Homo sapiens: one gene and its partners. The protein of the gene in region 2 interacts with the protein of the main gene of each other region in a pairwise test. Each region holds a gene or a part of one and is shown on either strand. Other genes may lie near its edges.

Region 1 (7,005 bases), on a different chromosome or scaffold from region 2:
GTAAGTGAATGGCAGTCAAGACTGGGGTATAGTGAAGAATATATGCATCATGTAAGAAGAACGGCTGATTGTTTTCATGTGAGAATGCAGGCCTAAGATTGCTAGATCTGAGTCTTCAGGAAAAGCCAAAAGTTCAGAGGTTTATATGATGTCTCATATTGGAACTAATTCCACTTAAGGAAAAAAAAAACCCTACTACTGGGGAACTAATAAAACATAGCAAATTAATTGCATTTGGCCAATGAGCTTCCAATTTTCATCTGCTCTATACGATTAATGTAGAAACACAATTTCTCCCTTCTTTTTATTGTGCTTACCATAAAGAATGTAAGACTAATTAGCCTTTTTCCTCCCCTTAGGATGGTGCGTCCAAGGTTAACCATTTATGTTTGTCAGGAATCACTGCAGTTGAGGGAGCAGCAACAACAGCAGCAGCAACAGCAGCAGAAGCATGAGGATGGAGACTCAAATGGTACTTTCTTCGGTAGGTTGTTCTGGACACACTAGGACAGATATGAAGAAAGGTGAAGAGATAACTTATGGGCATGTGTGATGGGAAACTATCAAACAGCAGATTTAGTATTTGCTAGAAGTAACAATAATCACTAGCATTTATTAAGTTCCTAATACATGGCAGGTGCCATTCTTTTTTTTTTTTTTTGAGACAGAGTCTCACTCAGTTACCCAGGCTGAAGTACAGTGGCACAATCATGACTCATTGCAGCCTTGACCACCTGGGCTCAAGTGATTCTCTCCCCTCAGCCTACCGAGTAGCTAGAACTAAAGCTACTCATTTGCCTAATTGTTTTATTTATTGTAGAGATGGGATCTCCCTATGTTGCCCAGGCTGGTCTTGAACTCCTGGGCTCAAGCGATCTCCCTGCCTCAGCCTCCCAAATTGCTGGGACTATAGGTGTAAACCACTACACCCAGCCAGGTACTATTCTTAACACTTTTTATATGCTTTAATATTTACAACTAATATCTCCTCTTTGCGGAGGATTTTACTGTTATCTCCGGTATTTATGCAAGAAAAATCAGGCCTAGGAATGTTAAATAACTTGCCCTAGGTCACACAGCTGCAAGTGGTTGAGCCAGGATTTGAACTTAGGCAGTGTGATTTCTGAGTCCTTCAGAAAAGTGGGCATTCCTAGTGATCAAGTTACCTGTAAGAGTGGACAAACTTTGTACTGACTGCTGTTGCTCTCTCCCTTTTGCAGTTTACCATGCTATCTATCTAGAAGAACTAACAGCTGTTGAATTGACAGAAAAAATTGCTCAGCTTTTCAGCATTTCCCCTTGCCAGATCAGCCAGATTTACAAGCAGGGGCCAACAGGAATTCATGTGCTCATCAGTGATGAGGTAGATTTTTCAGTACAGTTGAATTACCAGATGATGATTAATTTGTCAGCGCATGGAGCAAGAGCAGTTCTCCTGGGGCAGAGTGTTCTGTTTTCTAGATCAGAGGGTTTCATACTTTTTTGCTTGCTTTCCTCCTAATTTTTTTTTTTTTTGAAACAGTCTCTCTCTGTTGCCCAGGCCGGAGTGCAGTGGCCCAATCTCAGGTCACTGCGACCTCCTCCTCCTGGATTCAAGTGATTCTCCTGTCTCAGCTTCCCGAATAGTGGGAATTACAGGCGTGCGCCACCACGCCTGGCTAATTTTTGTATTTTTAGTAGAGATGGGGTTTTGCCATGTTGGCCAGGTTGGTCTCAAACTCCTGGCCTCAAGTGATCCACCCGCCTCGGCCTCCCAAAGTGGTGGGATTCCAGATGTGAGCCACTGCGCCTGGTCCTAAAATATTTTAAAAACCACATATTCCCATGCACATTTTTAGGTTGACTTAAAATTTTTTGTTAAAGTTTAAATAGTTGTAAAAGATGTCATTTCTGGGCATATATAATGACATTTTTAAGTGAAATGGTTACATCATTATTCTAATTGCATCCCATGTAACCTTAATACAAAAATGATTTAATACCACCACCATCCATTAAAAAAAAATACATGATTGTGCTTTTCTTTAACAGTTAGAATTCTTATACTATTCCTCTGTTTCCTTGAACTCTTATTTTCATTTACTTCCCCCGGTGAATTTTATCTTACTGTAACTTTTTTTTTTTGAGACAGAGTCTCACTCTGTCGCCCAGGCTGTTGTGCGGTGGTGTGATCTCGGCTCACTGCAACCCCGCCTCCTAGGTTCAAGCAATTCTCCTGCCTCAGCCTCCCAAGTAGCTGGTATTACAGGCACCCACCACCATGCCTGGCTAATTTTTGTATTTTTAGTAGAGGCTGGGTTTCACCATGTGGCCAGTCTGGTCTCGAACTCCTGGCCTCAAGTGATCAACCCGCCTCAGCCTCCCGAAGTGCTGGGATTACAGATGTGAACCACCACGCCTGGCCATCTTACCATAACATATTTTTATGCACAAACATCTTTTATTGATTATCCTACTATATTTGTTTGAAATAAAGTTTTTAAATAAAAATTTAAAAATTATTATAATGGAATTATCATAATTATACAATTGATTAAAATAATGTAAATATGCTACATGTTTTAATAAGTAATTATTAAAGATTAAGAAGGCTGCCCAGGCGCAATGGCTCATGCCTGTAAACCCAGCACTTTGGGAGGCTGAGACGGGTGGATCACAAGGTCAGAAGTTCAAGACCATCGTGTCCAAGATGGTGAAACCCCATCTCTACTAAAAATACAAAAATTAGCTGGGCATGATGGCAGGTGCCTATAATCCCAGCTACTTGGGAGGCTGAGGCAGAGAACTGCTTGAACCCGAGAGGCAGAGGTTGCGGTGAGCCAAGATTGCGCCACCGCACTCCAGCCTAGGCGACAGAGCGAGACTTCATCCAAAAAAAGAAAAAAAGAAGGCCAGGCACAGTGGCTCACACCTGTAATCCCAGCACTTTGGGAGGCCGAGGCAAGCAGATCACCTGAGGTCAGGAGTTTGACCAACATAGAGAAACCCTGTCTCTACTAAAATACAAAATTAGCCGGGTGTGGTGGCACGTGCCTATAATCCCACCTACTCAGGAGGCTGAGGCAGGAGAATCCCTTGAACCCAGGAGGCGGAGGTTGCGTGAGCCGAGATGGGGGCATTGCGCTCCAGCCTGGGCAACAAGAGCAAAACTCTGTCTCAGAAAAAAAAAAAAAAATTAAGAAAAAATTATTACAGGTATATCTATGAATGAGTTCGATGAAATTGTTTCGTTCCCTACCTGTACCCTTGCACATAATTATTTCCTTTGTAGCTGAATACTGCCTATTGATTGCTAGAATGACACAGGATTTCAGCATCAATTCCATTCTGTTTTTTTCCTCTAGATATAAATGCTGAGGGACTTGATTCCCATAAATTGATAGGAATGGATGGAATTTTGTAATGACAATGTCATTAGATTATACTTCAGAATTATATACCAGAAATTACATAGTGATATTACCAAAAAATCATTTTGAATCCTCTGTCTTACGACAATTTGTGATTAGGTTACTCTTTAATTCTGGTGAAAGGAAAGAGTTAGAAACCATGTGGCTCATAAAAGGGTCTATTGCTCAGTTATTAGCGTTCACCTTCGCCATTCCACTTTGCCACCTGAAGCTTTCACATCATGGGCCACCTTATTAGGATCCTGGGAGGGTGAAACTCATGCCTTTATCTTGGGAGAAGGGAGTTTATCCCTGGGAGAAGGGAGTTTGAGAAGGGAAAGTGGGGAAGGAAAATTAAAGAGGTTTTAGGAAAGAGCACATATGGGAGTTGAAGACACGGAAGTCAGTTCTCCTGTATGCACATATTTGTGTCCGTGTGCTCCTTGGAGAGTCTTGGGGTTAACCCAGGGAAATGCATACCAGGCTTTAAAACAACTCTTCCAATCTGCTTAGTTTTTTAATATTTAAAAACCAAATGGGAGGGGAGGAAAAAACTTTTATGATCCTAGATATTCAAGAAATACATTATTTGTGACCTGTAAAGCCTCCCATATAAATCCCTCTGGATGTGGGGTAGTCCTTAGGGACACAGGAATATAAAGGGGTTGTTTTTCATTTAAATAATCACAAATTTTCTTGCATTTTTCAGATGATACAGAACTTTCAGGAAGAAGCATGTTTTATTCTGGACACAATGAAAGGTAATAGTAAGACAAACATCTTTCTCTAAGCAGTTTAACAGCTTTACTACTACTAGGCAAAGTACATACTTCTTTGAGGAGAGATAGGAAAAGTAACCATATTTGGGTAAAGAAAGTGACAATATTAGAGATTGTTCCTTTTTTTAAGTTGGCTTTTTTTTTTTTTTTTTTTTTTGAAACAGAGTCTCGATCTGTTGCCCAGGCTGGAGTGCAGTGGCATGATCTCGGCTCACTACAACCTTCGCTTCCCAAGTTCAAGTGATTCTCCTCCCTCTGCCTCCCAAGTAGCTGGGATTACAGGCACGTGCCACCATGTCTGGCTAATTTTTGTATTTTTAGTAGAGATGGGTTTCACCTTGTTGGCCAGGCTGGTCTCGAACTCCTGACCTCAAGCGATCCACCCACCTTGGCCTCCCAAAGTGCTGGGATTACAGACATGAGCCACTGTGCCTGGCCCAGCTTTTTGCCATTCTCTTCCATCTTCCATTACAGATGAGGAAATTGAGGCATGTTGTTTTTATAATGCATTTTTTTTGAGACAGAATTTCGCTCTTGTTGCCCAAGCTGGAGTCCAGTGGCGTGATCTCAGCTCACTGCAACCTCCACCTCCCTTTTCTCCCCTTCTCACGAGAATCTTACCATACTTTTTTTCTCCTGCTGTGTTTTAGAGGTGACTAAAGATGATTCTCTCTCTCTCTTTTTTTTAACAGCAGAAACCAATGATAGCTATCATATCATACTGAAGTAGGAGTGCGGCGTTTCGTGCCCAGTGGCTGCTCCTTCCTTCACCTCTGAAAACGGCCCTCTTGAAGGGGGATATGAATGGAGATTTGAAGGTCTGCAAGAACCTGACTCGTCTGACTGTGTGTGGAGGAGTCCAGGCCATGGAGGCAGAATCCTGGCCCTCTGTGTTGGCCCAAGCTCTTGTGGTACACACAGATTACTGCCCAATATGCAGTTCTGCAGCTGTTTTAGTTAAATTTCTGGACCTTGTTGTTGTTAAATATCAGTAGAAACTCTACATAATTTAGAGTGTATGTAGGGCATAATGATGATGGGAATTGTGTGATGTTTAACAGGAAGATCTTAAATTTTGTGATATGGAGCCCTGTAATTTTTTTCTTATATAAAAATGGGTATCTATATTCATAAGACTAGGTCTTCAATCTCTTTGTACTGGTCTCAAATGTACTGGTATCTCTGCTTTTTGCCACAGTTTGTCCCTGAAAACTTTATCAGTGAGGAGAAATACAGAATTTTCCTTTTGGTTCCCCTGTAATACCACAACTAATAGTATTTTCAGCTAACATTTATTGACCAGGCAGTGTGATAAATTTTTTGAATGACCATCTTGTTTAACCCCCTAATCACACTATCTGAAGTAGGTGCTATAGTGACCCCCAACCGAAGATGAGGAAATGGAGACACACAGTGGCTAAGTAGCTTGCTAGGTGCCAGGAGCTGGCAGGCAGTGATGCTGAAATCCAAACCAGGCAATCTGGCCCTCCTTATTCACCCTCTCATACCACCAGTGCTACCCATTATAACCTGTGTTCACTTCGCTTATTACTGTGGCCCTTCTGGTGACTACAACATAACACTGAGTATGAACTGAGGAATTAACCACTGAAAGAGACAAAGCACACCTAAATAATGATGAACAAATCAAGACCTACAAGAAATGAACACATAGATGCTTTTTAAGTGTCATTAGTTATCGGAATCAAAGAATTTGAGGTGGTGACAACTGGGGATTATCTGTAACTCCCCAAATTTACTGTTCTTGAATGACATTCTCAAACTATTTATTAATGAGTTAGTCTCATCCCTGCTTTCTGTTTCCTCTCTCTGCATCTTCTCTTGGCATAGGAAGTTATTTTACTCATGCTATGTTTTTTAATAGAAGCTTTACAAAAAAAGATGCATTCCCTTCCTGTTCACACTCTTACCATGTTTTTGTTCTTCCTTAAGAATGATTGTGTGTGTGTGTGTGTGTGTGTGTAAGTGTGTAAGTGTAACATCATGGGTTTTCTTTCTTCACTTGTAAAGTTTTATCTAGAAATACTTTTACAGGTTATGTTGAGGTACACAAAGATAATGTTCTAAGATTGTGTATTGGATTTGGATTTGTGTGTGTGTGTGTGTGTGTGTGTGTTTAAAGCATTTGATAAGGTTTAAATGTTTTTTATACAGAGATTTTTGTTCATTAAACTCAATCTGCATCATGGTCTAATTTCTCTTGGTTTGAAACAAATTGAAAACTTTGAAACCAAAAAATTAAGTCAATGACTTGTTTAAAACTGACCTGAGCAACTTGTTATATTACACCAAAATGCTTCTTAGTGAATGATTACCAGGTGTCTCCATTTTGAGGAGGAGACGTATCTGGTTGTCTTATATTCCTAGTACTGGTTCTCAACCTCAGTTCTTTCCTCAGCAGGCTGCTATTGGTTTGGATTTTTTTTTTTTTTTTTTTTTTTTTTTTTATGTCTAGGTGTTTGGGTAGGAAAGTTGGACTAGATGCCTTTTTCTTTTTTTTTTTTTTTAATATAGAAATGAGTCTGGGCACCGTGGCTTATGCCTGTAATCCCAACAATTTGGGAGGCTGAGGCAAGCAGATCACTTGAGGCCTGGAGATTAAGACCAGCCTGGCCAACATGGTGAAACCCTGTCTCTACTAAAAATACAAAATTAGCTGGGCGTGGTGGCACACACCTGTAATCCCAGCTACTTGGGAGTCTAAGACATGAGAATTGCTTAAACCTGGGAGGTGGGGTTGCAATGAGTTGAGATCAGGCTGCTGCACTCCAGGCTGGGTGACAGAGCAAGACTGTCTCAAAAAAATTTTTTTTAAT
Region 2 (7,025 bases):
TTCTTTTTTTTTTTTTTTGAGACAGAGTTTCACTCTTGTTTCTCAGGCTGGAGTGCAATGGTGCAATCTCGTCCGGCTAATTTTTTGTATTTTTAGTAGAGATGGAGTTTCACCATGTTGTCCAGGCTTTTCTTGAACTCCTGACCTCAGGTGATCCAGCTGCCTTGGCCTCCCAAAGTGTGGGGATTACAGGCGTGAGCCACCGCGCCCGGCCCATAAGTACCATATATTATATAAGATGATATAGTCACAGTGATGAGAGCTTCCCCACCCCTAAGAAACTTGTAGGTGACTAGATAAGCGAAACAATAATTTATTTTATAGAGACAGGGTCTCTGTTTACTAAGCTGGAGTGCAGTAGTGCTATCATATCTCGTTGTAACTTCAAACTCCCGTGCTGAAGTGATTTTCCTGCCTCAGCCTCCTGAGTAGCTAGGCCTATAGGCTCATGCCACCATGCCTGGCAGATTTTTAAGTGTTTTTTTTTTTTTTTGTAGAGATGAGATTTCACTATGATGTCCAGGGTGGTCTCAAACTCCTCAGTGCCTCTCCTGTCTTGGCTTCCCAAAGAGCTCAGATTATAGCTGTGAGTCGTGGCACTTGGCCAATAATTTCTTTTTGACAGTTGCTGCGATATGAGTAATATTAGTAAACGCTAAAGGAATAGGGAAGAGGAATATTGAACCAGGAGTTTCACCTATGGGAAGGCTTTCCATCGTAGAAGGTGTTTCCAGAATGAGAAGTAAAAGCCAGATGAGGAATGTGGTTAAAGATTGCAGTGTATATCCAAGCATGGAGGAAGAAGGGTGCTTGATCTATTTAGAGAACTCTTAAGTGTTTTAGAATGGTAGGAGGTGGGAAGGGAGGGACCACTGAAGTGTTTAGCCCTGTACTAGCTTTATTTTAGTGATGTTTTCTCTCTGTCTGGAATAAATCATTTCTTCCCTTATGCATTGGCTGAGTTATATAAGTAGAACTTAACAGCTGAGCTGTTGAAATGGAGATTATTTATTCAGGTACTGATAACCTTTTGTTTCAAATCATGACTTTGAATCCTATATTCCAGAGGCACTGAAATGTTATTTATTTACCTGTGCATTCAAGAGATAGCTGGCAGCCTAGCAATTTAAGTTACTGTTGTTGTGGTAACTTGAGGGCGATATATAAATCAAACACTGATCCTGTTTTCCAGAAGTTTATACTTTAAATGCATTTGTATATGATTAAAATAAGGTATTAGGTTGGTGAAAGTAGCTGCAGTTTTGACCGTTACTTTTAAGGGTGAAAACAGCAATAACTTTTCTACCATCCTGTACAAAGGGCTGCTGAAGCGTTGTGGGGTCTCAGTGCAAGGAGAGGTCACTTCATCCCTGATGCTTGGGCCACACCTCAGACCAACAGCAGTGCTAAGGCCCAGGCTTCAGATAATTTTGTTTAATTTTTTTTTAAAATTCTCTCCATGATTGGGTAGAGCCAGGGCTGAGAAACATTGACCTGAAGGAATTAGGGGGCTTCATGGAGGAGGTAGTGTTTGTGTTGGGCTTGAGAGGATTTAAGTTTCTCCTGGGCCTTGAAAGGAATTGAAGGATTTAAATGTTTGAATGTGGTGGTAAGATGGCTACTGTAGGTGGAAGATGACTCACCCTTTACCTTGAAAGGATGAAGGAGAAACCCTGATTGAGGTCTAAGAAAAAACAATCATGACCTGCGGAAGGCTTTGGCCAGAGCTGTAGAGTGCATGAGGGTGAGAACGGGGAGATCCCGTGAAAAGGTAATACATCGGCTTTCATATGTTTTAGGCATGAGATGAGCTGAATCCTGATATGATTTGAGTTAGTCTTCCCATGACCTGATGGAAGAGCTGTTATCTCCATTTAAGAAAAGTGAAGCTGCCCAGGTGTGGTGGCTCACATCTGTAATCCCAGCACTGTGGGAGGCTGAGGCAGGAGGATCACTTGAGCTTGGGAGTTTGAGGCCAGCCTGGGTAACATAGCGAGACCCCATCTCAATAAAATAGAATAAAAAAAAGAAAAAAAAATGAAGCTGAGAGTTTATTTAGCCAGGGTCACACAGCTGGAAAGTAGCTAGTGTGGACCTTGGCCTGAGATGTGATCTGTCTAGCTATGATACAACACTGCTTCACAGATAAAGTACCAGCTTCAGGAATTGGAAGGTTATTGATTTTTCTTGGATAACATGGGTACATTTCAGTCATATTTGAATTTTAATTTAGTTGGATTCTCACTTATTTGTAAAGCTAACCGGTTTGTATTGGAAATATTATAAATATTCTGGGAATCTCAAATGTTGATTTTATACTAGCTTTTTAGTTATTTAAGATAAATTTACATTTTATTCTATTAACATCTCTTTGAAAAGACGTAGTGCTTTTTTAGGTTGTCTATTTATGTGTGTATGTGAGACATTTCCTCTTGGGGGATTCTCTGAGACTCACATTTCTGTAGAAGCTTTTTTCAGATATACTTATGAAAATCTGTTCTCTGTTTTGAGAAATCTTGAAAGCTATGATATGTTGCAACTAGACACTCTAGCTTCATTGATTGGAGGCTAAGGGTTCCCGTATTTGTGGGCAGTAACAACAAAATTGACAATTTATTTTGTGTAAAGTATTTCAAATGTCAGTTATTTCTAGAGGTTTTTTTTCTTAAAAAAAAAAAACTCATTAATTCTTTTCATTGTAAAGGAAAGAAACCATCTTTTCATGCTACAAACCCCGACCACCATGAGAATTCTTTTACAGTGTGATTTGTTGTAATCTGTTATAGATCACTTTCATTCTTTCTTTCTTGCTGCATATGAGGGACCAGTATTTTAGGAATAATGTTTTCATATTGTCTGGATATTTTAGGATGATTTGTTAATCAAACTAGCTACAGCTTATTGTAATGATAGCTATTATTTATTTAGAGTTTGTTTTCTCTCTTCTAGGAGCTTTGCCATGAAAAGAACAGTCCAGGCCAGGCGTGGTGGCTCACACCTGTAATCCCAGCACTTTGGGAGGCCCAGGCAGGTGAATCACGAGGTCAGGAGATGGAGACCATCCTGGCTAACACAGTGAAAACCCGTCTCTACTAAAAAAATACAAAAAAAATTAGCCGGATGTGGTGGTGGGTGCCTGTAGTCCCAGCTACTCGAGAGGCTGAGGCAGGAGAATGGCATGAAGTTGGGAGGTGGAGCTTGTAGTGAGCTGAGATCGCACCACTGCACTCCAGCTTGGGAGACACAGCGAGACTGTCTCAAAAAAAAAAAAAAAAAAATCGCCACACTGTCTTCCACAATGGTTGAACTAGTTTACACTCCCACCAACAGTGTAAAAGTATTCCTGTTTCTCCACATCCTCTCCAGCACCTTTTGTTTCCTGACTTTTTAATGATCGCCATTCTAACTGGTGTGAGATGGTATCTCATTGTGGTTTTGATTTGCATTTCTCTGATGGCCAGTGATGATGAGCATTTTTTCATGTGTTTTTTGGCTGCATAAATGTCTTCTTTTGAGAAGTGTCTGTTCATATCCTTCGCCCACTTTTTGATGGGGTTGTTTGATTTTTTTCTTGTAAATTTGTTTAAGTTCTTTGTAGATTCTGGATATTAGCCCTTTGTCAGATGGATAGATTGCAAAAATTTTCTCCCATTCTGTAGGTTGCCTGTTCACTCTGATGGTAGTTTCTTTTGCTGTGCAGAAGCTCTTTAGTTTAATTAGATCCCATTTGTCAATTTTGGCTTTTGTTGCCATTGCTTTTGGTGTTTTAGACACGAAGTCCTTGCCCATGCCTATGTCCTGAATGGTATTGCCTAGGTTTTCTTCTAGGGTTTTTATGGTTTTAGGTCTAACATTTAAGTCTTTAATCCATCTCACATTAATTTTTGTATAAGGTGTAAGGAAGGGATCCAGTTTCAGCTTCTACATATGGCTAGCCAGTTTTCCCAGCACCATTTATTAAATAGGGAATCCTTTCCCCATTTCTTATTTTTGTCAGGTTTGTTAAAGATCAGATGGTTGTAGATGTGTGGTATTATTTCTGAGGGCTCTGTTCTGTTCCGTTGATCTATATCTCTGTTTTGGTAACAGTACCATGCTGTTTTGGTTATTGTAGCCTGGTAGTATAGTTTGAAGTCAGGTAGCGTGATGCCTCTAGCTTTGTTCTTTTTGCTTAGGATTGACTTGGCAATGCGGGCTCTTTTTTGGGTCATATGAACTTTAAAGTAGTTTTTTCCAATTCTGTGAAGAAAGTCATTGGTAGCTTGATGGGGATGGCACTGAATCTATAAATTACCTTGGGCAGTATGGCCATTTTCACGATATTGATTCTTCCTATCCATGAGCATGGAATGTTCTTCCATTTGTTTGTGTCCTCTTTTATTTCATTGAGCAGTGGTTTGTAGTTCTCCTTGAAGAGGTCCTTCACATCCCTTGTAGGTTGGATTCCTAGGTATTAGAACTAGAAATACCATTTCACCCGGCAATCTCATTACTGGGTATATACCCAAAGGATTATAAATTATGCTCTGTAAAGACACATGCACACATGTGTTTATTGCAGCACTGTTCACAATAGCAAAGACTTGGAACCAACCCAAATGTCCATCAATGATAGACTGGATTAAGAAAATGTGGCACATATACACCATGGAATACTATGCAGCCATAAAAACGGATGAGTTCATGCCCTTTGTAGGGACATGGATGAAGCTGGAAACCATCATTCTGAGCAAACTATCGCAAGGACAGAAAACCAAACACCGCATGTTCTCACTCATAGGTGGGAATTGAACAACGAGAACACTTGGACACAGGATGGGGAACATCGCACACCGGGGCCTGTGGTGGGGTTGGGGGAGGGGGGAGGGATAGCATTAGGAGATATACCTAATGCCAGCATGGCACATGTGTACATATGTAACAAACCTGCACCTTGTGCACATGTACCCTAGAACTTAAAGTATAATAAAAAAAAAAATGAAAATAACCAAAAAAAAAAAAAGAGAAAAGAAGAGTCCTTTCATTGCTGTTTAGCAGTATCTCATTTTAGTAATTTTTCTAGTGACATATTTGAAGTTCTGATTGACTTCTTCGAATGAGTGTATTAGCCGCCATCTCTTGTTTGTTCAGGTCAGTAGGTTGTTTACAGAAAACATTTAGAATTTGCAGTGTTGAGTCTGTTTACAAAAAACAGCCTACATTTTGCTAATCACTGGAAAAATACTAGGTCAGTGTCTTAAGATGTGCAATACTGAGATCTGTGATGTTAACTGATCTCTCAGAGGATGGGTCGATACATATCGTTGATAGTATACTGTAGACTGTTATTAACAATAGAAGATATACAGAGAATTCATGATTTCTTTGGTATTATAGTGAATTACATGATTTAATATTTTATAACGTTTTAATGTAAACATTTATTTTCTGAGCACAATTGAAGCACTTCAGCCTGGCAAACTTGTAATCTGTATGTGTAATTGTGAGTTTGAGTTAACTAACAATATTTAAGAGTTATAAAAGCCTGGCTTCTGTGAAATGGATTACAGTAATATTGGCAGAGAGTAAAACAGTTAGTTTCAGTTAATGAAGATGAGTTTTTTGGGAGAATTATCTTTTTTTAAATCAATTCCTGGAATTCTGCAGTGCAAAGGGAAAGTAAAATGAAGCAGTCATGAAATAGAAAAAGCTTAGCAGGCAGCATACTTTCTTTCCTGTTTCTTGACGTTCTGAGATAAGCACATTGTTATTTATTTCAAGTCTTGGAGCACTTTGAGACAAGCACATGTGCCTGGGCATTCATAACATTAAGCCCTGTTAGGAATCCCACTTACACCCTTGGCTTCTGCGTACTGTGAGAGCTGGGCTGGATGATAATTACAGTCAGCTTTCATTTGTAGAGCCCAGGTCTTCAAATAATTTCCAAGTAAACTATCCCAGATTAATACGTTTCAGGACATAAGTGTGGTTCGCTAGAGCTGTCAAGCTGTCTGGATGCCCTTCTGTTAACTTTGTAGAAGAGATTCCACGTGTGTCAAGTTACAGTGTTTGCTGAAATTTTTCTGTTGTCTTGAAAGCTATTTGAAAATGAAATGTTCATTATAGTACTGGTGGTCAGGTATGTTCCTTAGATATATATGAATTAATGTCACCACACTATAGACAGTAATTTTTATATCACCTTCTCTCCAAAAACCTGCAGCACTTTTAGGATGAAGTCTAATTCCTTAACACAGCCTATGAGACCCTGACGACTATGGCGCTTACCCACTTCTCCAGTCCCATGTCATACCTTTTTATTTTTCGCTTGCTGCTTTTCATTCTTTAGTACTCACCTCTTTCCCCTCTACCCTGGGGACCTTTGCAAATGCTGATCCAGCTGCCTGGAGTGCCCTTCCTTCCCTTGCTAATTATTCTTCTGATCTCAGTTTAAGAGATGCTTACTCAAAGCTACCTTCTCTAACTTGAGTACATCTTCCTCTGTTAAGCTCCCTTAGTATGGTGAATTGCTCTTCAGCTTAGAGTGACTGCCATTGCAAGTAACTGAAGTCAAATTGTTTTAAACAAACCTAGTGGCTTTATTGTCTCCTGTGTCTTGAGGGTTCAGAAGCCAGATGGGCTTTAGGGTTGATTGGTTTGAGTGATGTTGCCAAAGATTCAATTTTGTGCTTTTCTCTACTTTGTCTTCTCTAACGTAAATTTTATCGTCTGGCCAGAGTCCTCTCTCTCGGTTATGGGAAACCATCAACAGTTTGGGGGCGCTTGTTTCCAAAACCTTAGAGGAGTGAGAGAGCTTCTGGACCAAGAGTGCTCAGCAGTCCTCTCCGTTCATGTCACTGGCCCTCCTTGTGTCATGTCCTCATCCATTTCTGAACCAATAACTGTGACCAGGGAGAAGATAGGATTCTTTTGGTCTTGAACCAGTTGCCTAGCTCCTAGAGATAAAGGGGAATTATTTTTTGTAAAAGGAACAAAGTTCACTAGAGCAATCTTGCCAGAGTTATATTTTTTTATTTGATTAATTT
Region 3 (7,025 bases), on a different chromosome or scaffold from region 2:
TACAAAACTCTGATTGTCACTTACACCTAGTCCCTCCTTAGATACCTGCCAGCTCTAGAGTTACAGCCAACTCTTTCTTCTCCTTCTTCTTGGTGTGGCCCAGGCATGTGGAGGAGGTGCTAAGCTCATTGCATCTGTCTGGATTCCCCCCATGGCTCTAGTTTGCAGGCCTTCCCTGGAAATCAACTTTGTCCCACCATTCTTTGGGTCACATCCTAAGAGGCCTTGGGCACTCTCTCCACCTCCTAGGCTTTCTGAGCTCTGGGCAGGGGGACACATGAGCTTCTTCCTGTGTTTCAGATGCAGATGGCAGAGCTATTGGTGTCCCATGGAGCTAGTCTCAGTGCAAGGACATCCATGGATGAGATGCCAATAGGTAAGTCCAGCACAATAGCTGGTGTGCACAAATAGGCAGTTATCAATGTTTTGATGGGTAGAGGGAGAAATAGATAAATATATGGTTGTATAGATTGATGGATTGGTGTCTAGATAGATAGATGGATTAATTAATGGATGGTAGATGAATGGACGGATGGACAGATTAATGGATAGATGGATAAATGGATGAATGGATGGTTGAGGTGGTAGATGGGTAGATATTATGAGGTCTGGTTGAATGGATGGGTGGGTGGGTGGATGGATGGATGGATGGATGGATGGATGGATGGATAGACAGAAAAATAAGTGGATGAGTGGGTAAAGGATGAATCTATGAATACATGGCTCAGTCAGCAATAGGTAGATAGATGGATGAAGGGGTTAGGTAGAATAGATGGGAGTATGTAGCTTTATTAGCATCTTTGCATAATTTATTGCTTGGGCTATGTGGGGTACCTGCTTGGGGACTCTTCTTGGAAACTATCAAAGAGCAACATGAATCCCTCGGTCATAGCTGGGAAGCTTAGGAATTGTGACTGTGCCCAGAACCTGGGTTTCCCATTCTTATAATCCTCTTATAAACACACTCACTCAACTTTGGCTGGCATTGTTTTCTTGCCTCCCTGCATGCCCTGAAAGATGCTTGGAGTTTTCAGTGGGTTGGGGTGGCAGCTCCTCTGGTCTGGAGCACCCTCTTGCGCCACAGGTCCTGGCCCCGTCCCCCACAACAGACTCCTCTGCCCCTTCAGACCTGTGCGAGGAGGAAGAGTTCAAGGTCCTGCTGCTGGAGCTAAAACACAAGCATGATGTGATCATGAAGTCACAGCTGAGGCACAAGTCATCCTTGAGCCGGAGGACCTCCAGCGCAGGCAGCCGTGGGTGAGTCCGGGGCAGGGCAGCCAGGAGTCCCTGTGTGTGCTCCTGCCTGTGGTGCCTGGGTGCAGCCTCTAGGACCCACTTTGTCCTCTCAGGAAGGTGGTGCGGCGAGCCAGCCTGTCGGACAGGACCAACCTGTATAGGAAGGAGTATGAGGGAGAGGCCATCCTGTGGCAGCGGAGTGCAGCTGAGGATCAGCGGACCTCCACCTACAACGGGGACATCAGGGAGACCAGGACAGACCAAGAGAATAAGGACCCTGTGAGTGGCCTCACGCCCTGCCCTAGTGTCAGCCACTGCAATGGGAGGAGAACAGGGCCCAGCCTGGCCTTGCCTCTTCAACTGAGAGCCTTCAGAGGGAAGTAGCCAGGCACTGCCCTTAAACTAGCATATCCAGTCTGATGATGATGGCTACTGTAGTTAAACCAGCAGATTCAGTCTGATGGTGGTGGCTGCTGTAGTTAAGGAGGTGATCGGGGAGTGTGTTAGAGGCTGAGCTGGGTGCTTTGGCACACAGGTAGGTCTCCTAATTGACAGGGGGTGAGTGTCCGCTATGCGCCTAGCTGTGCTCCAGCACACCTAGCAGTGGACTTCCAAGGAGAGAGCTTCAGTAGGGCAGTCACCCAGGAGCTGAGGGTGCTACAACTTCTTTTTCAGGAAATATAACAAGATATTGAGAATTGTGTTTATCAGAACATGTTTTTTGAAAAATGGAGTAGGATCCTAGTAGGACCTCTGAGAAGCCTGCTCCTGTAGCAGCCAATGGTCCTTTAAGCTTTAAGCTGCTTTCATTTCTGATGGCTGCTTTAAGAAATTATCACAAACTGGATGGCTTAACATGGTGGAAATTTATTCTCTCTCAGTTCTGAAGGCCAGAAGTCTAAAATCCAGGTAACACCAGCATTGGTTCCCTCTGGGGGCTCTCAAGGGGATTCTGTTCCACGCCTCTGCGAGCTTCTGGTGGCTCAGGCGTTCTTTGGCTCTTGCTAGCAATGATTCTAGTCTCTGCTTCTATCTCCACATGACCTTTTTCTTCGTGTGTGTGTGTCTGTTTTCTTTTTTTATTTTTATTTTATTGGTTTTTTTTGAGACAGGGTCTTGCTCTGTCACTCAGGCTGGAGTGCAGTGGCATGATTATAGATCACTGAAGACTCCAACTCATGGGCTTAAGCGATCCTCCCACCTCAGCCTCCCAAGTAGCTGGGACTATAGGCGGGGGCCATCACGACTGGCTAATTTTCAAATTTCTTGTAGAGATGAGGTCTTGCTGTGTTGCCCAGGCTGGCCTCAAACTTAGCCTCAAGCAATCCTCCCACCTTGGCTTCCCAAAGTACTGAGATTACAGGTTCGAGCCACTGTACCTAGCCTGTTTTTTCCTCTTATGAGGACACCAGTCATTGGATTGGAGCCCATGCCAATCCAGTATGACCTAATCTTAATTTAATTTATTACACCTGCAAATACCTATTTCTAGATAAAGTCACATTCAGAGATTCCAGGTAGACATGAATTTTTGAGGGACACTACTTAACCCAGAACCAACACACTCACTCAGCATGGCTGCTTTCTTGCTGAGTGGAGTGAACAAGTTTGGGGCTGGAGTGGAATTGCTGAGGATGAGGGAGAAGTTAACTGTACCAGAAGTGGTCTGCCATTTTCGTTCTTCCACTACACCACGAACAGATGAAAACATGCCTAGAGAGTTTAGCCTTGGTGGGATGAAATTGATTAGCTACCGAGCATGCCCACGTGTCTCAGAGGGACCCTGCTTCCCAGCACGAACAGTGGGGTCACCTACTGCCTGTCTCACCAGGAGGTGTGAAGGTGCCTGCCCAAGGGGAGGCCACATCAAAGCCACCAGCTGGTGATGGAGAGGGCACGTAGGGAAGATTTGTTCTGCCTGGCCCCTTAGTCTGAGGATTGGTGAGAAAAGAGATGTAGATCAGTATCAAATCACATTTCAGATGTCTCCCAGCTGTGCTTTATTTATTTTTCCTTTGTGATTGTGGTGTAACTTAAGTATGGTAAAGCAGACAAATCTTTTTTTATTTTTTTATTTTTTTATGATATGGAGCCTCGCTCTGTTACCCAGGCTGGAGTGCAGTGGTGTGATTTCAGCTCACTGCAACCTGTGCTCCCGGGTTCAAGCGATTCTCTTGCCTCAGCCTCCTGAGTAGTTGGGATTACTAGTGCCCGCCACGACGCCTGGTGGATTTTTGTATTTTTAGTAGAGATGGGGTTTCACCATGTTGGCCAGGCTGGTGTTGAAGTTCTGACCTCAAGCAATCCTTACCCACTTGGACCTCCCAAAGTGCTGGGCTTACAGGTGTGAGCCACCATGCCTGGCCAAGTAGACAAATCTTAAATGAGATTTTCAACAACCTTTTACAAATGTACACACTCAGATGAATTCATAGAGCATTTTCATCATCCATGTTCTCTCTCCGTCCTTTCCCCCACTCCAAATGTAGTCACTATTTAACTTTGAGTTCTAAAGATTAATTTTGTATATGCATATGAATGACCCTGCAGTTTCTTTCGTGTCTGGCTTTTTTTACATCTGTGAGAGTCACCCACGTTGTGGCATATAGCAGTAGTTTTTTTTTGTTTTTTTTTTTTGAGACAGGAGTTCACTCTGTTGCCTGGGCTGGAGTGCAGTGGTGTGATCCTAGCTCACTGCAGCCTTGACCTCTTGGGATCAAGCGATCCTCCCACCTCAGCCTCTTGGGTAGCTGGGACTATAGGCATGCACCACCATGCCTGGCTAATTAAAAAAAATTTTTGGCTGGGTGCCGTGGCTCATGCCTGTAATCCCAGCACTTTGGGAGGCCGAGGTGGGTGGATCACAAGGTCAAGAGATCGAGACCATCCTAGCCACATGGTGAAACCCCATCTCTACTAAAAATACAAAAATTAGCTGGGCATGGTGGCACGCGTCTGTAGTCCCAGCTACTCAGGAGGCTGAGGCAGGAAAATCACTTGAACCCGGGAGGTGGAGGTTGCAGTAAGCCAAGATCGAGCCACTGCACTCCAGCCTGGGGACAGAGCGAGACTCCGTCTCAAAACAAAACAAAACAAAACAAAACAAAATTTTTTAGAGATGGAATCTTGCTATGTTGCCCAGGCTGGTCTCAAACTCCTGGGCTCAAATGATCCTCTTGCCTCAGTCTCCCAAAGTGCTGGGATTATAGGCACGAGCCACTGTACCTGGCCTCATTCTTGTTTTTTTTTTCTTTTTCTTTTTTTTTTTTTGAGATGGAGTCTTGCTCTGTCCCCCAGGCTGGAGTGCATTGGCGCGATCTCGGCTCACTGCAACCTCCATCTCCCGGGTTCATGCCGTTCTCCTGCCTCAGCCTCCCTAGTAGCTGGGACTATAGGTGCCCACCATCACGCCCAGCTAATTTTTTGTATTTTCAGTAGAGACGGGGTTTCACCGTGTTAGCCAGGATGGTCTCGATCTCCTGACCTCGTGATCCACCCGCCTCAGTCTCCCAAAGTGCTGGGATTACAGGCGTGAGCCACCACGCCTGGCCGCCTCATTCTTTTTTATTGCTTTCTAGAATTCGATTGTTTGAATATTAAAATTTACATATCCATGCTCCTTTTTTTTTTTTTTTAAATTGAGACAGAGTCTCGCTTTGTCACCCAAGCTAGAGTGCAGTGGCGTGCTCTTGGCTCACTACAACCTCTGCCTCCCAGGATCAAGCGATTCTCCTGCCTCAGCCTCCTGAGTAGCTGGGATTACAGGTGCGTGCCACCACGCCCGGCTAATTTTTCTATTTTTAGTAGAGATGGGGTTTCGCCATATTGGCCAGGCTGGTCTTGAATTCCTGACCTCAAACGATCCACCCTCCTCGGCCTCCCAAAGTGTTGGTATTACAGGGGTCAGCCACTGCTCCTGGCCTCCATTCTCCTTTTGGTGGACATTTGGGTTTCTTGTTTCTGGCTCCTGTGAATAAAGCTCCTATAAACATTTTTGTACATGTCTTTTGGTGGACATAAGCACTATTTTGTGTTGGGAAAACACCCAGGAAAGCAGCTGGAGTCACGGGTAGGCATATGTTTAGCTTTAGTGGATACTACCAAGCAGTTTTCCAAGGTGCCTTGTACCTGTCTGCTTTCCCATGGCAGAGTGTTTCTTGCCAACCCTTGGTATAGTCAGTCTTTTTTTTTTTTTTTTTTTTGATACAGAGTTCCGCTCTTGTTGCCTAGCCTGGAGTGCAATGGCGCCATCTCGGCTCACTGCAATCTCCGCCTCCCGGGTTCAAGTGATTCTCCTGTCTCAGCCTCCTGAGTAGCTGAGATTACAGGCACCTGCCACCATGCCCAGCTAATTTTTGTGTTTTAGTAGAGATGGGGTTTCACCATGTTAAGGTGGGAATTCTCAAAGCATGGTCCCTGTACCAGCAACATCAGCATCACCTGGGAACTTGTTAGAAATGCAGACTTTGGCTGGGCACAGTGGATCACAAATCCTGTAATCCCAAAACTGAGGGAGGCTGAGGTGGGAGGATCTTCTGAGCCTAGGAGTTACTGGACAACATGGCAAGACCGTATCTCTACCCCCCACCAAAAAAAAAAAAAAAAAAAACAATTAGGTGGGTGTGATGGTGTGTACCTGTAGTCTTAGGTCTTGTGAGGCTGAGGCAGGAGGATTGCTTGAGTCGAGGAATTCAATGCTGCAGTGAGCTATGATAGCACCACTGAACTCCAGCCTGGGTGACAGAGTGAGGCGTGGTCTCTAAAAAAAAAATAAAAATAAATAAATGTAGATTCTCAGGACCCACTCCAGATGTGGCGATACTGCTGCACACAAGAATTTCAGAACCACTTATTTGAGGAATAATTTGTTCAGCCTGACCCCCAAATCACATTTCTTCCAAGGCTGTGCCCTGTTAGCCTTCAGGGATGACTTTGGTTCACTGTTTTTTGTTTTTGTTTTTTTCCTCTGAGACAAGGTCTCACTCTGTTGCCCAGGCTAGACTGGAGTGCAGTGGCGCAAACTTCGTTCACTATAGCCTCTGCCTCCCAGATTCAAGCAATTCTCCCACCTCAGCCTCCTGATTAGCTGGGACTACAGGCACCCGCCACCATGCCCAGCTAATTTTTGTGTTTTTTGGTAGAGATGGGGTTTCCCCATGTTGGCCAGGCTGGTCTCGAACTCCTGACCTTAAGTGATCCACCTGCCTTCGCTTCCCAGAGTGCTGGGATTACAGACATGAGCCACTGTGCCCCTTGTTTTTTAATCTGATGTTTAAGTAGCAGTACAGACAAACTAAATCAGAATCTCAGGAGTTGGGACCTCAGCATTGTATATGTTTGTCATTGGTGTTTTTTTTTAATTTTTTTTAGATGGAATCTTGCTCTGTTGCCAGGCTGGAGTGCAGTGGCTCAATCTTGGCTCACTGCAACCTCCGCCTCCCAGGTTCAAGTGATTTTCCTGCCTTAGCCTCCTGAGTAGCTGGAACTACAGGCGCACGCCACCATGCCCAGCTAATTTTTGTATTTTTAGTAGAGACGGGGTTTCACCATGCTGGCCAGGATGGTCTCAATCCCTTGACCTTGTGATCCACCCGCCTCGACCTCCCAAAGTGCTGGGATTACGGGCGTGAGCCACCATGCCTGGCCATGTCGTTGTTTTTTAAAGCTAAAGAGAGACTGTTTTTGAAGTGATTGCAGCAGTAAGTAGAATGCATCGACCACAGAATTGGCAAGATCTTGGAGGTCAAGGAGAAAGGAGTTCGTTTCCTAGGGAGGAAGACAGAGGCTGC
Region 4 (7,365 bases), on a different chromosome or scaffold from region 2:
CAGGCATGCACCACCATGCCCGGCTAATTTTGTATTTTTAGCAGAGATGGGGGTTTCTCCATGTTGGTCAGGCTGGTCTTGAACTCGCGACCTCGGGTGATCCGCCTGCCTAGGCCTCCCAAAGTGCTGGGATTACAGGCGTAAGCCACCACACCCGGCACTTTTTCTTAATTTTTTTCAATATATCTAAGCTACATGGTTTGTCTGAGAGTTATTTTAAATTGTGGCAATCTCCAAAAAAAGTACGATGTATTTTTTGAAGAAAATCTGCATAAATGGACCTGTGTAGTTCAAATCCAAGTTGTTCAAGGGTTAACTAGTAATTTATCATTATTAGCATTATTAAATTTTGGGAACTTTCACACCAATTCTCAATCTGATATACTAGCATACCATAGAGTTGGTAACTCTTCTAATTGGCAGTGAAATGTTCAGAGGCATTTTTTTTCTCACACTGGTCAGCTCCAAACAGCCCATTACCAATTTATTATTGATTCACAGAATCTCAGGTTATAAGAGATCTTAGAGGTTAATTTCTGGCATTGGATATAGCAGAGGAAGAAATAAGGTGTCTCATAAGGCAAACTCTTCCCAGAATAATTTCAGTTTGCAGAGTTTCAAGATGGGTCCTTATGGAGTTCTTTTTCTCTTCTTCCATTAAACTGCTTAGATTTCTTTCTGTTCATTGCATTTCAGCGAAGTTTTCTTTTAGAGATTTAAGGGACTTTGGCAGACAGGCCAAACACTAGTGGGGCCTCATTATCAAGTAATATGTTGCAAAGTATAAGGCAGCGTAAAACTGAAAACTGCCTGGTTATCTGCCATATGGCATTTTACAGAGGAAGAGTCCAGGGGCAAATCTTGCAGTTCTGTTCTTCGCATACAAAAAGAAAACACTCATGCAAGACTTGGATTTTTGCTTCTTTACAATGTTAGGAATGGTTTTCTATCAACCACTACTAGTCTATCAGTTCCTCCTTCCTTTGGCTACTGAGACATTTGTAATAGAATTGACTGTCATAACCATCAGAGCATAAGGTCATGAAATATGACAGATTCTTTGCTGTTGCTATTGGTGCTTATCTGCAAGCTTCCTTCTTGGCCAACAAGGCTCTATCCAAGGAAGCTAATGAGATCGTTAAAGTAGATCCCAAAGGAGGAAGCAGAATATGTCTATTCATCAATGGAAGTGGGACTTCTTTGATATCATTTAGGTTTAAGAATCACACTTTTTGAGAATGGACTTATAATGGAACTGTGATATAACTGCAAAAGCTATGGATAGTAAGAGGAATGAGTCTACATCCATACATTTGATTTAACAGATGAATGAGGGTTCAACTCATTTTTTAAAAAAAAAACAGGGCTAGGTTTTTCCCTTTAAAATATATATGCATTGAAATGAAAGAATATGCCCTTTGAGTAAGTTTAAATGCTGGCCCAGGGATTAGTTTACAAAGCAGAAAAGTGGTTTGCCCACTTCCTACCTCATTTTCCAATTTTCTCTCATGTTCAATGCAGTGAATGTTACATTTGTGTGTGCCAACCAGGGCATGCTCACAGAAGGAAAGAGTGCTAGTGGAAAGAAAAAGAGAAAGACACCATGGAGAAAAAAATATTAATGATCAATTTTTCCACCCCAAGAAAAAAATCTCCAGGCTCCAGAAAACCGGGTGCAGTGATTCCTCTCCATTTCATTCAGAATTTGAAGCCCAGAGACAACAAGGCTTTGAAAGAGAAGCATTTTGTGCTGCCTTTGTAGTCCTAAACAATTAACAGCTCCAGAGTCCCAGAGAGAAACCCGTACGGCATCCTTCAAACTTGTTACAAAGTACCTTATGTAGTGGCAACCCTTCTGTGGATCACGGTGAGACAGGTCCTTCCTCCTACCTGAAATGCCCACAATTCTGAATTAAAAAAAAAAAAAGAGAGATTGACTGTCCCTTATATGTGTATTGAGATGTGGACCTTGACTGAAGTCTTATCCCATCTGAAATTTACCATCTTCAAGAGGGGTAATCCAATGTCCCTATGCATAGATGCAGATTGTCAGAGTTAACAGTGTTGTAATAGATTGTGAGCTTTCGGACTCCATGGCTAGGGAAGCAGGAAGAGATGTGTCTACAGGGACTGGCTAGCAGGGAGACTGTACCAAAACTCTAAAGCACAAGCATAGTGCTTATGTTTTCCTCTTAAAAATAATAATAATAGGGCCGGGAGCGGTGGCTCACGCCTGTAATCCTAGAACTTTGGGAGGCCGAGGCGGGCGGATCACAAGGTCAGGAGATCGAGACCATCCTGGCTAACACAGTGAAACCCCGTCTCTACTGAAAATACAAAAAAATTAGCCAGGCCTGGTGGCGGGCGCCTGTAGTCCCAGCTGCTCGGGAGGCTGAGGCAGGAGAATGGCGTGAACCCGGGAGGCGGAGCTTGCGGTGAGCCGAGATCGCGCCACTGCACTCCAGCCTGGGCAACAGAGCGACACTCCGTCTCAAAAAAATAAATAAATAAATAATAATAATAATAATAATAATAATAGGACGGGCATGGTGGATCATGCCTGTAATCCCAGCACTTTGCGAGGCCAAGGCAGGCAGAGCATTTGAGATCAGGAGTTCGAGACCAGCCAACCCTGTCTCTACTAAAAATACAAAAATTAGCCAGCCTGTAATCCCAGCTACTCGGGGAGGCTGAGGCAGGAGAATCGCTTGAATCCGGGAGGCGAAGGCTGCAGTGAGCCAAGATCACACCACTGCACTCCAGCCTGGGCGACAGAGCGAGACTCTGTCTCAAAAATACATACATACATACATACATACATACATACATACATACATACATACATACCTTCAATAATAAACCACATTTACTCTACAGTATTCAGAGATTCTGAATTCCACTAATTTTTTGTGCCTCCCCCTTCCCCTTTCTCCAGTGTACAGCACAATTCATTGCACATGCTAGGTGCTCAAAACAGATGTGTTGAATCAGTCAAATAAATAAACGAATAAAATACATACACTTCTGCACATGTTTTAGTTCTTCTGATCTTCTATTTCTTCAGCTATAATGTGGGGATGATGTTATTTTGTGGGTTTGTTTTCAAGATTAAATAATATAGCATACCTTATACAATATGTAAAATGTCAAATGCTATGCTCAAAGGTACTAGTGGAATTTTAAGTCTGCAGGTATCTTTCAGATTTTAAAAAATCAGTACCAAAAGCTATAGGTGGGATGAGTTAATTAATCTCAAACACATTTAAATTAACAGGAAGAAAGAAATAGGGCATGGTAGGAGGAGAGAAAGGAGGACAGTTAGGGATATAGTGAATACTTTTAAAGTCAGTTGAATTATTTCATACGGGATAATTTTTCTTGTCACAGTAAATCACCCTGTGCCCCACCCCCGCTCCAGGAAGGCAGGGAGGTTGTAAAGGAGAAGCGAGAAGAGGGTTAATTTGAGCTCCCTCCTGCCTGCTGCAGTCACAGTGCATGATAGAGTAATGAAGGTGACGCCGCCACATATCTCATCTGAACTTCCTCTGTGGTCTTTTTCATATTAAAGTCTTTCACTGTTACAGGACTGTGCTTGGAAAAGTTGGGAAACTTTTCCCTTGGTGGAGAAAAAGAAGCCCTCGTCAGACGCAATCCAACAAATGAATGGAGTTATTTCCTTGGCCCAACATGTCCATCCACTAGCACACCAAATATTCATAGAAACATCTTTCCTCACTTCCAAGGCCGGAATTGTACTCTCCCGTGGCGTTGCCTAGTATCGCAGATTTCGAAAGTGAGCAGGCAACAGACTTGGCTTTCGAGCCAATTCTAGGAGTCGATGCGACTTACTGTCCTGTGTGGTAGCTTCTCCCGGGAGCAGAAAGTGTAAAATAAACAGCTGCTGAAAAGCATGAAGAATTAACGAAGTGAAAATCTCGAGTTATTTGTTCGGCAATTGACACGTAAGTGACCTCCTTAAATGCCTAGTTATTTAAGGACGTTTAGAACGAGGATGAATGAATCTTCAGGGCGGTTAATTCGCACCGGCGTGTAAATTTCTTTAGTCTTTCGGGAAGTGGCGGTAAATTCATACAAATCCAGCAGGGAGGGAAGAGAAGGGAGTAAAACCACGATCTCGGAGCGCTCTTCTCAGTCCTTTGGAAAGACTTGCCTTTACTGCCCGGAACCCTGGAGGTTACAGCTGGGCGAACCCGGAGGCGCTAGGACCTCGTCAGCGCCTGGCTGCGGCCGCTTTCAAGAGGGCGGAGGAGGGAGAGGAGGAGGGCGATGTGGGAAAGGAGGGGTGTTAAGGGGGGCGGGGGAAGTCATTTATGCAGAGCAGGAGCTGCTGCCATTGCCACTCAGAATCCTCGCGCGCTGCTCGGAGCCGGAGGGAGCGCTGGGAGCGAGCAAGCGAGCGTTTGGAGCCCGGGCCAGCAGAGGGGGCGCCCGGTCGCTGCCTGTACCGCTCCCGCTGGTCATCTCCGCCGCGCTCGGGGGCCCCGGGAGGAGCGAGACCGAGTCGGAGAGTCCGGGAGCCAAGCCGGGCGAAACCCAACTGCGGAGGACGCCCGCCCCACTCAGCCTCCTCCTGCGTCCGAGCCGGGGAGCATCGCCGAGCGCCCCACGGGCCGGAGAGCTGGGAGCACAGGTCCCGGCAGCCCCAGGGATGGTCTAGGAGCCGGCGTAAGGCTCGCTGCTCTGCTCCCTGCCGGGGCTAGCCGCCTCCTGCCGATCGCCCGGGGCTGCGAGCTGCGGCGGCCCGGGGCTGCTCGCCGGGCGGCGCAGGCCGGAGAAGTTAGTTGTGCGCGCCCTTAGTGCGCGGAACCAGCCAGCGAGCGAGGGAGCAGCGAGGCGCCGGGACCATGGGCTGGGGGAGCCGCTGCTGCTGCCCGGGACGTTTGGACCTGCTGTGCGTGCTGGCGCTGCTCGGGGGCTGCCTGCTCCCCGTGTGTCGGACGCGCGTCTACACCAACCACTGGGCAGTCAAAATCGCCGGGGGCTTCCCGGAGGCCAACCGTATCGCCAGCAAGTACGGATTCATCAACATAGGACAGGTAACGAACTACAGGCTAGCCCAGCCCTCGGCCCTGAAGCCACTGGGGGCTTCTTGTCCCCTCTGCGTGGAACCCCCTCCCCCTCTTCCAGATGTGCTCTAGCAGCTGTTGCCCTAACTCTTGGGCGATGCTCTGTCTCCTGCGCGCGCGCGCGTACGCACACACACACACACACACACACACACACACACCCCAGAGTTGCCGGGTCCGTGTTTTGTTTACTTGTCTTTTCCAAGCCACGCGGGACTGGTAGGGTCTCGGGAAAAATCCAGAGTGCCCCCGTGGTGGCTTCAGAGACGGCTGGACCTTTTGACCTGAAAAGTCGAGTAGCACTAGTAATCTGAGGCAGTCTCAGAGAGGGTGATCGTGGGGAGAGGGGGAAATTAGGTCTTTTGGGGGATAGGGGGTGAGCGCGCCTCTGATGCCTGCGGGGAAGGGAAAGCCTTTCCTGCTCGGACCTGAATTTAGCCCAGAAAGAAGTTTCCTCTTGGGCGAGAGAACCTCTGGCGCTGGAGACTCCGGAGGCGCGGGGACTGGAGCTGGAAGGGAGGAGAAAGGAGGGGGAGGGAAGAGGGGGCCGGCCCCGGTGTGAGTGCAGATTTAGGGGAGACCTCTAGGCTTTCTCGCCTTAAGCGAGGTCCGCGTGGGGGCTCCCGGAAGGGAGTTGTAGTGGGGAGGTGGGAAACTTCCGAAACCGGCTGGCTGGGTTCCGCTCCGGGAAAACGAGGAGTCTTACCCCGGGACGGAAGGTGCCGGGCCGGGAGGTTGCGCCGTGGGGCGAGAGTTGGGCAGGCAGCAGGGGCGCGGGGTTTTTGTGGGGTGCCGCTCTCGGGCTTTTGGCAGAGCTCTCCTGCTAGGGAGAAATGCCCATAAACTAAGGTGATGCTATGAGGATGATTGGAAGCGTAACAGATTTGGAAGTACTCCGGGTTCAGTGGTCTTGGCTTTCTGGTTCTCTTCCCCCGACACCCCTGCGAGAAATGGGGGTAGAGAGGGCTATGAAAGTGGGTCCCAGAAAGTACCCCCCTCCACATACACACCGCAAGCATCTTTGGGGTTGGCCGGAGGGGCGGGCCCTGGCTGGGCTCAGGCGAGAATCCGCTGGAATGGGAGGTGAGGATGATGGATGGCGCCTTTCCAGCAGGCGCGCTTTGGGGACTGCCCGGGGTGCACGCACCCTGCGTGCTCTGCCAGGGGGAAGGGAGAGGGAGGTGCTGGCTGGTGCCGGCGGAGTGGGAGAGTACGGACAGTTTCTGAGGCCATTGCGTTCCACGCCCAGGAACCCGGGGACACCCCCCGCCCCTCCTCCCCGCCGCCTGGGGGATGCGGCACCTGGAGAGGAGGCAGAGCTGCTGTCGCCGCGTTTAGAAGGAGCTGGGGAGTGCGGGGAGTGTTCAGAGGAGCAAGAGCACAAGATCTTGCTCTTTGCCCGCCCAGAGGGAGGACATATTCCAGAGAAGCCAGCCCTGTGGAGAACTGAGACTAGGGCAAGGGGCACGGTTTGTATTCCCTCCTGCCCCTGGAACTAAGGAAGTAAGGGAAGCCAGCCAGATTTTGTTGCTTGAGTGACTGTTATCTGCGGAAGATTTCCATTCTAAAGGCTCGTTGGGATTCTACTGGCTTCTTTTTCTCTGGAAGAAAACACTGAGTCCGTTCAGGTCTTTTTACATGAACTTAAAGTTGGGCACTGCCTATGCCCTGGGAATGGAACTGGGGAGGCTAGCACTGAAAGTAGCTAGTACTATTAATCTTTCCAGAGATTCATCTCGGGTTCTGCTAACATTGAACATCTCACACATGACCAGGCATTTTTGGAGGAATAAATTCTTGAACATACCCTTCTTTCTTAATCTCAAAACAACCTTGTTTGGTGAATATTACCTCACACACAGGAGATGAGGAAACCGAGACCAGCTAGACAGTGGCAAAGCAGTGATTCAGACCTGCTACTCTGACTGTTGCAGGCCCAGTCCCCCATGGATCCTGCCTTTTAGGGAACCCTTCCATGCCATGATGAAGGAGGAAGGAAGTAAAATCTCCATTTCCTTGAATTCTGATTTAATGGCTCAGTAGGCTGGAAGCAAATATCTGGTCTCAGTTCACAGATATTTAGTTCAAACGCACCTAGCTTTCTTGACTTTAACAAGGGCAGAAACAGCTGTTACCTTTCTGAATTAATTGAGCAGAACTGGTATATGACAGAATCTGGCATAGCGAGATGGGAGAAATTGTCACCAAATCCACTTTTGAACAAGCAAACATTGCAATGTCCTGCAACCTCTGCTTGACTATTTACAAAAGGCCTTAT

Evidence for each region.
Region 1: the proteins of FARS2 (region 2) and TFCP2 interact in binary tests that used the Homo sapiens proteins (3 or more experiments, as listed by UniProt).
Region 3: the proteins of FARS2 (region 2) and PPP1R16B interact in binary tests that used the Homo sapiens proteins (3 or more experiments, as listed by UniProt).
Region 4: the proteins of FARS2 (region 2) and PCSK5 interact in binary tests that used the Homo sapiens proteins (3 or more experiments, as listed by UniProt).

What each region holds. Positions count from the first base shown.
Region 1 is NC_000012.12:51,093,134-51,100,138, reverse strand, and holds the end of TFCP2 (alpha-globin transcription factor CP2), read left to right. Parts: intron 1-359; coding exon 360-484; intron 485-1,220; coding exon 1,221-1,363; intron 1,364-4,098; coding exon 4,099-4,150; intron 4,151-4,860; coding exon 4,861-4,898; 3' UTR 4,899-6,483; downstream 6,484-7,005.
Region 2 is NC_000006.12:5,264,493-5,271,517, forward strand, and holds part of FARS2 (phenylalanine--tRNA ligase, mitochondrial), read left to right. Parts: intron 1-497; exon of another isoform or gene 498-586; intron 587-2,949; exon of another isoform or gene 2,950-3,031; intron 3,032-7,025. UniProt on the Homo sapiens protein: Is responsible for the charging of tRNA(Phe) with phenylalanine in mitochondrial translation.
Region 3 is NC_000020.11:38,906,679-38,913,703, forward strand, and holds part of PPP1R16B (protein phosphatase 1 regulatory inhibitor subunit 16B isoform 1 precursor), read left to right. Parts: intron 1-300; coding exon 301-376; intron 377-1,127; coding exon 1,128-1,257; intron 1,258-1,349; coding exon 1,350-1,515; intron 1,516-7,025. UniProt on the Homo sapiens protein: Regulator of protein phosphatase 1 (PP1) that acts as a positive regulator of pulmonary endothelial cell (EC) barrier function. Involved in the regulation of the PI3K/AKT signaling pathway, angiogenesis and endothelial cell proliferation.
Region 4 is NC_000009.12:75,886,317-75,893,681, forward strand, and holds the start of PCSK5 (proprotein convertase subtilisin/kexin type 5 isoform 3 precursor), read left to right. Parts: upstream 1-4,356; 5' UTR 4,357-4,865; coding exon 4,866-5,057; intron 5,058-7,365. UniProt on the Homo sapiens protein: Serine endoprotease that processes various proproteins by cleavage at paired basic amino acids, recognizing the RXXX[KR]R consensus motif. Likely functions in the constitutive and regulated secretory pathways.